Homo sapiens: one gene and its partner. The protein of the gene in region 1 purifies or fractionates together with the protein of each later gene. This does not show direct contact. Each region holds a gene or a part of one and is shown in the gene's direction. Other genes may lie near its edges.

Region 1 (3,178 bases):
CAGAGCAAGCTGAGCGCAGTCAGAGCAGCATCGTTCCTGAGGAAGAACAAGCAGCTAACAAAGGCGAGGAGAAGAAAGACGACGAGAACATTCCGATGGAGACAGGTAACCCACTAGCAACAAACGCAGAGGCAGTGCCAAGACTTTGTACGGCTGTCTTTAATTTAGGTTTTTCTTTCTAAGTGCAAGTATTCTGGTACCTGCCACTGAGGGTGATTCCCAGTACTAAATTTGACATGATATTGACATTCAGTATTTTAACCTTTAAATGCTTACATTATTTATCAAGATGTGGTTATTACCGTTAAGATTAATTGTCTTTGGTGTCCTAGGACAGCATTCTGCAAAGTAATACCTGTAAGCCAATCCTGCCCACCACTTGTTTTTGTAAATAAAACTGGAACACAGCCACACTTGTTTGTTTACATACTGTCTGTGGCTGCTTTGGGGATAAAACAGTATAGTTGAGTAGTTGCAACAACAACTGCCTGGCCTGCGAAGTCTAAAATATTTTCTATCTGGCTCTTTACAGAAAAAAATTGCCAGCTCTGTCCTAGAAAAACCCTTACTTCTAGGTATACTGATTTTCCTGATTAAAAGCATCCCTCAAGGTAAAAAATAATAATAATAACTTGTATAAATAAAACTTACATAAAGTACTGATTACATTGATCGTCACTTGTAATTTTGAGATCACCTTACCTCATGGCACTGTTTTAACACTGCCTAGTACACTGTGTAAACAGGACTAAGCTAAAAGTAGTTATGGAAAACAAAACCAAAGGCTTCCTGGAGCATCGTTGCAAGAAGTGGGAGGGACAGTAGTCATACTTGGTACTCAGATGACAACCATCTGGAAAACATGTAATGGAATATAGATATCTTTACCAGGTATTTCTGCAAAATTTAATCCAGCAGATTAACATTTGAAATGGTCATATTTTAAGTTTCAGTATCTGAGTCTCTTTCTGTTTTGTATGAATGTGTTTTTTATTGTAATGAATTTGGAGCATGAGCACATTTTTGTGGTTAAAACGAGCTTGAAAATTAAAATAACTGATTTTTGCTAATTTTGCAACTAGACAAACACTCAGTCCTTTGCCTCTGTTTTGGCATCTATGAATGGGGCATGTCTTATGCTTAAGGTTTGCAGGTCTTTACTCAGATTCTGTCCTAGTTCAAGGAAAAAACCTGAAGAAAATCGTTTGAGACTATTAGAGCTAAAACCTCATGCTTTTAATTTCTTACAGGAAACAGCCCAGCATGACTTTAAACAAAGTGTCTAAAAGACCAACCTTATATTATTTCTACAACTGCTTTCTCCTCGTTTAATCCATAGCACTACAGACTAACTCTCATTCACTGTCCAACAGAAATAAAATGCAAGTCACGTGAAATTTTATATTTTCTACTAGTGACATATTTTTAAAAGTTAAGCAAAACAAGTGTTTTAACAATATGTTTTATTTAATTCAACATATCCTAAATAAAATTATTTCAACACAGAAGGAACATTTTTAAAATCAGCTTTCCTTTTTTTAAACAGTCTTTATACACATCTCAATTCAGAAGCTAAATTTTCATCGGAAGTATTTGATCTGCATTTATTTAATAAATTTCATTCATTTACAGCTAAAAAGTAGATTTTCATACCCAAATTGTTCCAACATTCTTAAAAGTTCTTTAGTCACACTGGTTCATTTCAGGGGTTTAATAACCACATGTGGCTAGTGGCTTCTATATTGGACAGCACAGCTGTATACTGTCAGCATAACTAGAGTAAAATTTCATCTTGGAACTGACAGTGACAAATGTGTGATTACAGAGGAGACACACCTTGAAGAAACAACAGAGAGCCAACAGAATGGTGAAGAAGGCACGTCTACTCCTGAGGACAAGGAGAGTGGGCAGGAGGGGGTCGACAGTATGGCAGAGGAAGGAACCAGTGATAGTAACACTGGCTCGGAGAGCAACAGTGCAACAGTGGAGGAGCCACCAACAGATCCCATACCAGAAGATGAGAAAAAAGAATAAGTGTTGCCTTGTTTTGTGTGTTCTAAATACTTTTTTTAATGAAAAAATGTTTTTTGGTTTTAATGGTGTTACGTGGTTTGTGTATTAATTTTTTTTCTTGTCCATATCACACCACCAAAGGCTTTTGGACCATTTAGCATCATGAGCCTAATGGCTCAGTCAGTCACCTTTCTTAAGTGTTGTGAAGATGGCTCTTTTCTTTGGATCTTGTTTCTAGCCCTCAACTGCTGAAAGCCTCAGAATTTAGATTAATTGAGAAAACACCCACCTCTTTTAGAGAATTATCCTTTGATGCTGCAGAATCTACTCTTACAATGCCTTCCTACAGCTCACTGGGGTGCTTACCAAAGCCATAGCTTTAAACCTTCCCAGTCCCCATCAGTAGCTTCCTGAAAGTCTCCTCTCTTGTTTACTTCTGCAAAGGGTAGCTTCTTAAAAACGTGATCATGTATGAGTATGTATTTGTTCACTTACCCTTTTTTACTTTTAATCAATGTCAGATACCAAGAGTTGTGTTAAGCTGAGTGTAGTGTGTAACTAACTACACTTGGATCTTACTGATCCAGAAATAGTCCCCATAGTTAGAGTAGTTACTTATGAAGTGGTTATTAAAGTGAACACAGCACATATACATTATCTATACTGCTTTTTGTTATGATTAATACTGGGTATGTTCTGGTAAATCCATCCTTATTGTATAGAAAAAAAATTACTTTTTTACCAGGTTTTCCAAAGACAGAATAGATCACAAAGCTCAAGGAATTTAATATTCTTGTAATGGACTAGATAATTCAAACTGATTAGCCCATTCCAGAAGAAAAACAGCTGGGAATTAAGTTAATCCACTTGAAATTGTTTTACAATAATCAGAACATCCAAACCTCAAGGCTCAGGATCCCATAGACCAGAGCCCACCTTTTTGATAAACTTAGTAAAGTCTTGGAGACTAGAAGCAAGATAGTTTGTGACACATAAGCTTCCCAAAAACTAGAATAGATTTTTACTGAATAGTGGTATATCTGATGGTATATGTTTCTTAAAGGTCCAAATGTAATAAAAAAAAAAATGAAAAAAAGGTCTCAGTGTTTTTAATGCACTACATATTTGTATGCAAGACAAGCATCCAGTTTTTTTCTGTAATGCA
Region 2 (4,542 bases), on another chromosome or scaffold:
TTTTTTTTGAGACGGATTCTCACTCTGTTGCCCAGGCTGGAGTGCAGTGGCACGATCTCGGCTCACTACAGACTCCGTCTCCTGGGTTCCCCCAATTCTTCTGCCTCAGCCTGCAGGGTAGCTGTAACTACAGGGACACGCCACCATGCCTAGCTAATTTTTTTGTATTTTTAATAGAGACAGGGCTTCACCATGTTGGCCAGACTGGTCTCGATCTCCTGACCTCAAGTGATCCGTCCGCCTCCGCCTCCCAAAGTGCTAGGATTACAGGCATGAGCCACCGCACCCAGCAGATTGTTATACTCTTAAACCCATGATCTAGAGCAGTCTCCTTCCTTTTCTTTCCACATGCCAGTAACTCATTGAAGAAATCAGGTCACTTTCCTGTACAGTGTCCCAAGTTCTAGGTTAGACAGGCTTGCTTCCTTGTGATATCTGTAACTTTTTTCTTTATTTCCCTTATTTCTTATAAATAGAAGTTAACTTTGAAGGTGCGATTAGATTAAGTTTCACCTTGGTGGTGATACTTTATAAGGGGTTTGCTGCCCTTATGTTGTATCATGTCTTGAGGCAGTGTCTGGTTAAAGTAGAATCCAGATAAAGTCCACATACTGCAACTGATTGATACCTCTTTTTTTTTTTTTTTTTTTTTTTTGAGACGGAATCTCGCTCTGTTGCCTAGGCTGGAGTCAGTGGCACGATCTCGGCTCACTGCAACCTCCGCCTCCTGGGTTCAAGTGATTGTCCTGCCTCAGCCTCCCAAGTAGCTGGGACTACAGGTGTGCACCACCACGCCCGGCTGATTTTTGTGTATTTTTAGTAGAGGCAGGGTTTCACCATATTGGCCAGGCTGGTCTTGAACTCCTAACCTCGTGATCTGCCCGCCTCGGCCTCCCAAAGTGCTGGGATTAAAGGTGTGAGCCACCATGCCCAGCCCGATACTTCTTTTAATCTGTAAACTCCCCTCCAGCTCTCTCTTTTTCCACCCCTTACCATTTATCTGTTGAAGAAATTAGATTTGTGCTGTAGTTTCCCATAGTCTGGGTTTTGCTGATTGCATCCATATGTTGTGGGGTTTTTTGTGTGTTTTGTGTTTTGTTTTGTTTTGTGGAGACAGGGTCTTACTCTGTCACCCAGGCTGGAGTGTAGTGGCACATTTTTGGCTCATTGCCACCTCCACCTCCCTTCTGAAGCAGTCCTTCCACTTTAGCCTCTCGGGTAGCTGGGACTACAGGTACACGCCACCACGTCCAGCTCATTTTTTTGTATTTTTAGTAGAGACAGGGTTTTGCTATGTTGCCAGGCTGGTCTTGAACTCCTGGGCTCAAGTGATCTGCCCACCTTGGCCTCCCATAGTACTAGTATTGCAGGCATGAGCCACAGCTCCTGGCCCACTATGTTGTACTTTCATGTGTTCCTCTGTCCTTTGTATTTCCTATAAATTGGTAGTTGGAGCCAGAGGCTTGATCAGATTGAGGTCTGATCCCCTGTTCTCTCCCTTAGGCAGAAAAACCGACTTCATAGGTAATATATGGTCTTCCATCAGGTACATGTGAAATCTATTTATGGCTTTCTGTTAACAGGTGTTGTTGCATACTTCATTAATTATTAATTCATGAAAGGGATGTAAAATTGTGATAGTTTTTAATTTTATTCCTTATTAGCTATAGAGAAACTTTGCCTTATCTAATATTTGATTAGCCAGTGGTACAGTGTTTTTTTTGTGTGTGTCTTGCTTTTTGAAAGGATAAAGGCTTGATTTTTGTTTTATTTTGTTTTCACCTTTACCAGTTTTCAAAATATGTATTGGTTTACTAACATCCTTCAATATTTACCCATTTTGTTGTTTGTTTGTACGTATTATTAAGAACTACCAGACTTAAACATATGGCTGAGTTGTAATTGAAGTTATTGTCCTTATTGATACTCAGGCTGGTTCAGGCTCGTTCCTGTATTCTTTTTGTTTTGTTTTTTTGAGACAGAGTCTCGCTCTGTCGCCCAGGCTAGAGTGTAATGGCTTGATCTCAGCTCACTGCAACCTCTACCTCCTGGGTTCAAGCAATTATCCTGCCTCAGCCTCCCGAGTAACTGGGATTACAGGCGCCACCACCACACTCGGCTAATTTTTTGTATTTTTAATGGACACAGGGTTTCGCCATGTTGGCCAGGTTGATCTTGAACTCCTGACCTCAGGTGATCCACCCACCTTGGCCTCCCAAAGTGTTGGGATTACAGGCATGAGCCACCACGCCCAGCCGGTTCCTATATTCTATTGACATGAAGTCATGGTAAGAAGTCATTGATAGATTCTTTACTGTCTAGTGTTTGAAGATATACCAGACTGGGAATCAGCCATTTACCAAGGAGCCCTACCTTTTTCATGTTTCTGCTGAAAGGTGAGGGCTCCTCAACATTACTATTTGGAATTAGTATTTTAAAACTCTAATGTGGGCTATACTGCTACTGAGGTAGTCATTGTTTGTACGATTTTCAGTGGACAGAGCTAGGAAATTTGTGTGTTTGTTTGTATGTTTATATTTAAAGATAAATTACATCATAAGTTCATAGTGATACTTTCAATTGAGATTAAAGGCCTCAAGGTAATTATTAATGTCCTACGTTTTAACATCCGTTATCTCTTTTTATCCCATGATGAAAATCTCAGTTCTCCAGGATACCAGAGGTGATAGAATGTCACATAGCTACTCATTTGCTTTATTCCTTCTTATTCACAGCTTTCTCAACCTTACAGTAGTCTCCCATCAAAAATATAATTACTGAAAACAGTTAAAAAAAATTTTTAGTACTTTTTTGTCTGCAGGTTATATTTCACTATAGACATGCTAATTGCTAGATTTTACAAATTACTTGGAATCGTCCCTTGTGGTTATGCTACCATCTGTATACAAATTTAGGTTCATTTATTTTATTCATTTAACATTAAATATCTCTCTTTAGGTAGGAAGAGTGGCATTTCTCCTAAAAAATCAAAATACATGACTCCAATGCAGCAGAAACTAAATGAGGTCTATGAAGCTGTAAAGAACTATACTGATAAGAGGGGTCGCCGCCTCAGTGCCATATTTCTGAGGCTTCCCTCTAGATCTGAGTTGCCTGACTACTATCTGACTATTAAAAAGCCCATGGACATGGAAAAAATTCGAAGTCACATGATGGCCAACAAGTACCAAGATATTGACTCTATGGTTGAGGACTTTGTCATGATGTTTAATAATGCCTGTACATACAATGAGCCGGAGTCTTTGATCTACAAAGATGCTCTTGTTCTACACAAAGTCCTGCTTGAAACACGCAGAGACCTGGAGGGAGATGAGGACTCTCATGTCCCAAATGTGACTTTGCTGATTCAAGAGCTTATCCACAATCTTTTTGTGTCAGTCATGAGTCATCAGGATGATGAGGGAAGATGCTACAGCGATTCTTTAGCAGAAATTCCTGCTGTGGATCCCAACTTTCCTAACAAACCACCCCTTACATTTGACATAATTAGGAAGAATGTTGAAAATAATCGCTACCGTCGGCTTGATTTATTTCAAGAGCATATGTTTGAAGTATTGGAACGAGCAAGAAGGATGAATCGGTATGTTTTCAAAGCCATTTTTATTTTGAGGATATGTGCTATTTAATACAAAACAGATGAAAGAATATTGCTTTGATGTACTATTTCCACTTACATACATGATTTGTAGTTGGTAGCATGCTATTCTGAATTCTAATCAGCCAGAACTTCTTAAGAGTGAGTATATTCTGTGGGGGAGAGAAGGCACACCACTAAGTCATCTAGTTTAAGGCCAGTGAGGAGGAAGACAAAATTGAAAATCTCTTGAAAAGCATAAACTTAAAATACAGCCTTTCATAGAATGTGTTTTTTAAAAAGATAAATGTTTCTAATTGGAAATAGTAACAGCGTTTTTCTTTTAAGGTTTGGCTTCAGTGCACGAATGCTTTAAATAAAATAGCTCTAAGGTGTTGTCCTGAGGTTAGACTGATAGAAATTTGATCACCATTTTAAGTACCTCAGAGGGTTTCTTTTTTTTTTTTAATCTCAGGTTTCTCACCTTAAGAGCTTGCTGAAGACATTAAATGTTCTAAAAGAAGCAATCAAATTTAGATTTACTTTAAACTTAAATTTCCTTCTAATTTTTATCTGTGATATATCGTTGCTACATGTCAATAGCAGACTTGACTATTAAATTCAGCAATTACAGTGTATTTTATATGTGCACTTAGAGACAGTTGGAAAAATATAAAAAAAAAAAAGATACAAACCTTACCTTCCTGGAGCTTACAGCCTATCATGTTTAGAACTAGACCTTCAGGCAGTGTAATGCCAGCTGGGGAATCTATGAAATCAGAATTTGCTCTGAACCTTTAAAGAAAAGCAAGTAGTAATGTTTGCTTTCAGTGTCTTTGCAAATAAAAGAAAAAAAACATAGTAACATTTGCTGCTTGTGTTAAGCACCAGCTCTTCGTAAAGCACCATGCTAAGCACTTTATGAAGGCAATCTCTAACCCTTATGA

Evidence for each region. Proteins that work in one complex are often made in the same cells at the same time.
Region 2: the proteins of SMARCE1 (region 1) and PBRM1 purify together in Homo sapiens (affinity purification with western blotting; 11 studies listed by BioGRID and IntAct, with this or other methods). This does not show direct contact.

The regions. Positions count from the first base shown.
Region 1 is NC_000017.11:40,627,641-40,630,818, reverse strand, and holds part of SMARCE1 (SWI/SNF-related matrix-associated actin-dependent regulator of chromatin subfamily E member 1), read left to right. Parts: coding exon 1-105; intron 106-1,825; coding exon 1,826-2,034; 3' UTR 2,035-3,178. UniProt on the Homo sapiens protein: Involved in transcriptional activation and repression of select genes by chromatin remodeling (alteration of DNA-nucleosome topology).
Region 2 is NC_000003.12:52,608,372-52,612,913, reverse strand, and holds part of PBRM1 (protein polybromo-1), read left to right. Parts: intron 1-2,322; exon of another isoform or gene 2,323-2,380; coding exon of another isoform or gene 2,381-2,396; intron 2,397-2,958; coding exon 2,959-3,601; intron 3,602-4,542. UniProt on the Homo sapiens protein: Involved in transcriptional activation and repression of select genes by chromatin remodeling (alteration of DNA-nucleosome topology). Required for the stability of the SWI/SNF chromatin remodeling complex SWI/SNF-B (PBAF).